Homo sapiens: one gene and its partner. The protein of the gene in region 1 purifies or fractionates together with the protein of each later gene. This does not show direct contact. Each region holds a gene or a part of one and is shown in the gene's direction. Other genes may lie near its edges.

Region 1 (3,117 bases):
TAGATTCTTTTTTTATTATGAAGGTCAAATTAATCATATGGCTTTAATTATATTATTAAAATGCCTTTGATATAAATAATAGTAAACCAAAAATAGCAATTCCTTATTTCTGTCCTATCTTATTTTCTATAAAGTCTTGGTAAAAACAGAATTAGTGGCTGAGTGCAGTGGCTCATGCCTGTAATCCCAGCACTTTGGGAGGCCAAGGTGGGTGGATCACCTGAGGTCAGGAGTTCCAGACCAGCCTGGCCAACATGGTGAAACCCCATCTCTACTAAAAATATAAAAATTAGCTGGGCGTGATGGCGGGCACCTGTAATCTCAGCTACTTCGGAGGCTAAGGCAGGAGAATCACTTGAACCTGGAAGGCAGAGGTGGCAGTGAGCCAAGATCATGCCATTGCACTCCAGCCTGGGTGAGGCAAAACTCCATCCAAAAAAAAAAAAACAGAATTAGTATCTTTCTGACAATAGCATTATTTTACCACTTTGCATAATAGTACTGAAGAAAAACTTTGAATCAACAGCAAGTTCTTTTTTTAAAAAGATAGTAATTTAAATCAAAGATCATTATGCTTGTTTTTGATTTCTCTATCCTAATACTCAATGAAACGTAAAGCCCACAACTGCTTCTGGAATTCTTGAATTTTAAGTATTTCTTTTCATAATTAATTACATTCTGATAAAAACGCTAATCCACTGGACATCTAAACTATTACAAGAATACTAGGATTTGTTGTAATGCTGGAAGAATCCACAAATAATGGAAGAATCCTCTTCTAAATTGAAATAGCCATGTTTGTCTAGGTATGGTTCTAAGTGAAGGAGAGAGGAGTGGGATTTCTTGCACTACCCTAAGACTGACTACATTGTAAATACGCACACGCGAGCTATTCACTTGCCCACCCTACCCCTCCCTTCTTCCCTCACCCACAGTAACTCTTTGAAATAAAACCCAGAACATCAATTTTGAAGGCTCACAAAATGATATTTTTAAAAATGCTATAATTGAAGGAACTTTTTTAGGAATACTAGTTTCTACTTACTATACTTATGCCATTTAACAACACACTTTGATATCATCAAAAATGCCTTCCTTTGGAAGACATTTATTCTCTTCTTTTGTTTGTAGGTTTGGCAGAATGGCATGTTCCTGCTGCTGGAATGTTTTTATGGATTAAAGTTAAAGGCATTAATGATGTAAAAGAACTGATTGAAGAAAAGGCCGTTAAGATGGGGGTAAAACTGGGAGGTGAAGGGCTGGGAAACCTAAGGAAAAGTTATACTTTTTCTTTAATATTTTGCTTGAATAGAATGGAAAGAAATGTTTCTTGTTGCCCACCAGCCAACTCATAATGTTCTAATATTAGATATTTTATTGCATTATCAAAATCGTAAGAGGTTTTTGGGTTACGTAATTATCCAGCTGGTCTAAATTAGTGGAAATATAGTTGTTCATCTCAGCTACTGATTAGCGTAGTGGCTGAGGGTAGTCTCCGGAGCCACACCTGTTGGGTTTGAATCCCAGCACCACCCCTTAGGGGATGTGTGGCCTTGAATAGGTTACCCTTTCTGTGCTTTGTCTGTAAAACAGAGGTAATAAGAATCCCTCTCTCATAGGGTTGCTCTGATGATTAAGTGAGTTAATATATGTAAAGCCCTTAGACTAGTATGTGGCACATACTCAGTGCTCAGTAAGTATTAGCCACTAGTATTTAAAATGAAGGGTTTGTTTTCTGATGATGGAGATAAAGTATACTCGTGGTAGGATATTTGGAAAATGTATAAAAGCATAATGAAAATTTTTTAAATAGCCCATGATTTTACTACCCAGATTTTGTGACCATTTATAGTATAGTTCCTTGAAAAGCTTGTTCTTACAGTATTTTGGCTGTGCACTTATGTTACATAGTTAAAATTATACAGAAAAGTTTGTATCCTGATTTTTTTTTCACTTAAAATTAGCTCATAGAATGTATTCTAGGTTTCTTTTTTTTTTCCTCTTTTTATATTTAAATTATAAATCTACTTAGGTTTCATTGGAGGCATCAAGTAAGCTGAAAATTCTAAATATTTTTCTGTGTAGCTTTCCAGTTTACCAGATAAATTATTCCTTCTCCATTAATTAAAGCCATTTGCATGTTTGTCAGTCTTTTATACACACTGAAACCCTACTGCTAGATTCACTTTTGTCTTGAATCATAAGAACTAAAGGACAGATTGGATTGATGATGGCAAAGTGCCATGCTGGTGCATAAGAGACAAGGTGCTCTAGAAGTTAGAGCTAGAGACAGACTGCCTGGACTTCAGTCCTACCTCCACCACCTTGGGAAAGCTATTATCCTCTCTTAGCCATCTTACTTGAGGGCAGGACTCAGACTTCATTAATTGTTCTAACCCTAATCACAGCACATAGTAGGTACTTGATAAACAATTGACTTACTTCAAATAAATGCATTGTAGTATAATAAATCAATTTGATACATTCTTTTCTGTCAATGCCATTATCCTCAAAATATGTGGTAAGTGGTTATCTGTAGGTATGTCTAAGCGAGGCGCTAAGGATATAGACTTTGTTTTTACTCTACTCTTCTTCAGTCCTCTTCATTTATCCCATATATCCTGCTACATGTTCTTTTTTTACCTTTTCTAAATAATCTCCAGCTTTATCCCCACTTTGTCAGCCCAGATGTTGGTTATCTTGTGAAGAGATTACCACCACTCCCTTCTCTTTCAGCTCCTTGCTTCTAGTACATCCCAGAACTTTTCCATGCTACTGAGAGAAATGATGGTTTTCATTTTATTTTCAACCAGGACAGAGAAACCCATCTTCTGCCTTGAAATCTTTTGCCCAGAGTACTCCAAATCATATCACTCCCAACTCCTCTTGTCTTAGCAGACAGTGTAACAAGCAGTTACTCAATGCTGTTGAAGATCATGATTATACTAGTCAACCCTAACCACCACAGAAGATAAACTTGAAAATCTCAAAGACTTAATAAGCAATAGAAATTTATCTCTGACTCACATATAATTCTAAGATGTGACCTGCAACCCTCTGTGTTCCAACAGTGATTCAGAGACCCGGGTTTCTTACATCTCATTGCTTTTCATTCTT
Region 2 (3,500 bases), on another chromosome or scaffold:
AATTTTTTCACGTTTTGGACCGAGACCGAGTCTGGAAACAAACCCCATGTTTTCCATTATATGTTGACTGGGAGCACTGTAAAAGTTATGTGGAATATTAATTTCAGCCCCAATTTGTGCCAGCAAATCTCTGCCCCGAAGATTAATGGGGATGGGCATGATATAAGGCTGAATTGTTCCCTTTTGACCATCAGGGCCAGTGCAAGCCAAGATAAATGTGCTCTGGTGAACTTCTTCAGCTTTTCTAACACCTTCTAGTTTCATGTTAGTGGGATGTTTAAGCCAGGAGGAAGGCCATAAATTAGAGGAAATAATAGAAACATCAGCCCCAGTATCAACTAGGCCCTCAACCTTTTTTCCTTGAATGTGTATGGTGCAGGTAGGCCATTGTTTAGAAATTACATTAATCCAATAAGCGGCTTTTTCACCGCTGGAGCCCATCCCAGGGCCCCATGTCTTATCTCCTTTGTTTAAAACAATGTTAGGTAGTAAAAGTAATTGAGCAATTGACTCACTGGCCGGAATGGAAACAGGAACTTTGGCAGACACCATAAGTTTACATAAGTTTAATCTCATCAGAGGAATCAGAATTAATGAGACTAGTATGAACTATGATACCTTTAGTATCATGAGGTGGATGCCCTGCCTAACACCAGGCCCACCGAACCTTGAGGTAAAGGGCCAGTGACCCCCATGGGGACAATTAAAGGCAAAGAATTAGGTAGTAAATTTAGAGGAATGGTACTACAGAGATCGACCGCCCTGCTGCCTACTGTGGAGGTAGACAAGCATTGTACTGAGACAGAAGAAGAGGCTGGGACCCATCTGGATTGGCTGTAGGTAAATTTGTTTGTGCTGGGGGCTGCGTTGGGACTGCTTGACGCAAAAACACAACATTGGTCTGAGTCCGAGGTGTCCCATTTGATATTGGGGCCTGGGACTGGCCTTGCTTCCTGTTTCCCTGGTTCTGTGGCAAGGGATTTTCATCTATATCAGACTGAGTGGCAAGTACTTGCCCAATGTTTACCCTTACGACAACGCAGGCAAACAGTAGCAGGAGCATTTGGCCGTGTTTGTTGAGCCGGCTTGGCCGCTTTTAAGTTTTTAACAGTGTAGTTTTTTTGGGTATGACCAAGTTGGCCACAATTATAGCAGGCTCCAAGAAAAGAATCAGTCGAGCCAGTTTGGTTGCCGTGCTTCATGGCCGGTGCCCACAGAATAGCTCTGTGGGTCTCCGATCCAACGCCTTCACAAGCTTTAATATATGCAGGCAACACCTCATGATCAGGTAAATTTTGACGTAGGATGGAATGCACGGCCATTTTACACTCATGGTTCGCATTTTGAAAAGCTAACATATGAAGAAGAATACCTTGAGTGTGCTCATCAGAGACAGATTTTTCAACAGCATCTTGTAATTTAGCTAAAAAATCAAGATATAATTCATTGTGACCCTGTTTAACAATAGTAAAAGAAACAGAAGCTTGGCCTGGGGTGCGTAATTTATCCCAAGCTCTCATACACACCTTTGTTACTTGTTCCGTGGTGAGAGCATCAAAGCCTAAATGAGCAGTAGTATCAGAGTAATTATCGGAGCCTGTGAGCTGAGCCTGAGTAATTGGAATGCCATCAGCCCGATTTAGCTGAGCCTGCAGGCGGGCCTCCTCTGACCACCAGGTATGGAATTGTAAATGCTGAGATGGAGTTAGAACAGCTTTTGCCAAAAGGTCGCAGTCTATAGGAAGCAAAATGACCTCGGTACAAAGAGTCTGTAATACCGTTTTAACATATGGAGAAGTAGGAACATACTGAGTACAAGCATCCTTGAATTCTTTTAAAAAGGTAAGATTGAGCGGCGTATATCGACACACTTGTACCCCTTGAGCATTAGGAGGTTCCAGCATGACCGAATAAGCCCACGCCTCTAATCTACTTGTTTGTTTTGGCGTAATAAGCATTGCATGAAAGTTTCAAGAGCAGGCACATGAGATAGAGTCGGCATAGAAGTGACAGGAAAAGTATGTATAGATAAGAGAAACTGAGATTGACGGGGTCGGACTGGTATAAGAGTGTGAGAAAGGGGCATTGGGGGAGCAGAAGAGGCAGAAGCATACTGGTGATTACTGGCCCAGTCCTGCACAACCAGAGTGGCAGGGGTGTCCCTGCATGAAGAAGGGTACAGAGAAGCAGGTTGAGTGGATGGCAAAGTGACCGGTTGAGGGACCAAAATGATAGGAGGGTGAGGGGCTGTGGTGGATGGGGGAGGGCCTGCAGAATTACAGGTAAATTGTAGTTTGGATGGCTCCGGAGGCAAAGACTGTAAAGGTTTGGAGAGGGAAGAGTTAGCATAGATATGGTCCTGGGCTGTCTGAGTTGGGGCCGCAGGAGCTACAAGTGTCGGCTCTTCGTGAAAAGAAATAAGATCATCAGGGGGTGATGTTAAGCCAAAGTCACTGGAGTTAGATATTGAATCCTCAGTATCGTCAGGTGGGGGAGGAGTAGGCAAAGGGAGGGGCTGAGCAGATAATGAAGGCCGAGTGGGAGAGGAAAGCTGAGGAAGAGGTAGAGGGTGGCCAGATTCAGAAAACTGTGGTAACTGCAGGGTGTCACGGGATTGGTATGTCATTAGGATGGCACGTACCAAGGCCCAATCACCCCAAACAGTGACAGGAACATAATTTCCTGTTGGGACCAGTTCTCGGAATTTTGCACCAACATGATCCCATAGTTCCACATCTAACGTTCCCTTTTCAGGAAACCAAGGACAGTGTTCTTCCACTGCCCTGAATAGGGTGACCATATTTTCCATGGGAACCCGAACTCCCCCATTTTAACAGGAATTTAATATAGCAGAGATAAGCATAATGTTTAGACTCTGCGTGACCCATAGTTACCCCGGAGAATACACAGACAACTCACCAATCGTTGGGGAGCCAAACAAGCATTTCTGTGGACTGGACCGATGAACATTTCTCCGCACCTACCAAAGGGAATCGGGTTCCCACATGCACTTAGGAAAAAGAAAACCACGTTGGGCGCCAGATATTGGGGGAACCTGCCCCTAATATTTCAACGTACGTTCTTTCTATTTTCTGTAAGTGTCAGCCGGCTGAGAAATGAAGAGAAAGAGTACAAAGAGGAATTTTACAGCTGGGCTGCTGGGGGTGACATCACGTATCGGTAGGACCATGATGCCCACCTGAGCCGCAAAACCAGCAAGTTTTTATTAAGGATTTTAAAAGGGGAGGGGTTGTGCCAATAGGGAGTAGGTCACAAAGATCACATGCTTCAAAGGGCAAAAGGCAGAGCAAAGATCACATGCTTCTGAGGAAACAGGACAAGGGCAAAATCAGAACTCCTGATAAGGGTCTATGTTCAGCTGTGCACATATTGTCTTGATAAACATCTTAAACAACGGAAAACATGGTTTAAGAGCAGAGAACCAGTCTGACCACAAATTTACCAGGACGGAGTTTTTTCCCCACCCTAATAAGCCTGAG

The links. The genes of interacting proteins can lie anywhere in the genome.
Region 2: the proteins of AADAT (region 1) and TXNRD2 fractionate together in Homo sapiens (co-fractionation; one large-scale study listed by BioGRID). This does not show direct contact.

Annotation. Positions count from the first base shown.
Region 1 is NC_000004.12:170,062,840-170,065,956, reverse strand, and holds part of AADAT (kynurenine/alpha-aminoadipate aminotransferase, mitochondrial), read left to right. Parts: intron 1-1,131; coding exon 1,132-1,238; intron 1,239-3,027; exon of another isoform or gene 3,028-3,117. UniProt on the Homo sapiens protein: Transaminase with broad substrate specificity. Has transaminase activity towards aminoadipate, kynurenine, methionine and glutamate. Shows activity also towards tryptophan, aspartate and hydroxykynurenine.
Region 2 is NC_000022.11:19,935,319-19,938,818, reverse strand, and holds part of TXNRD2 (thioredoxin reductase 2, mitochondrial isoform 5 precursor), read left to right. Parts: intron 1-639; exon of another isoform or gene 640-992; coding exon of another isoform or gene 993-1,958; exon of another isoform or gene 1,959-2,980; intron 2,981-3,500. Other genes in the region: endogenous retrovirus group K member 24 Gag polyprotein-like, read right to left, coding at 993-1,958. UniProt on the Homo sapiens protein: Involved in the control of reactive oxygen species levels and the regulation of mitochondrial redox homeostasis. Maintains thioredoxin in a reduced state. May play a role in redox-regulated cell signaling.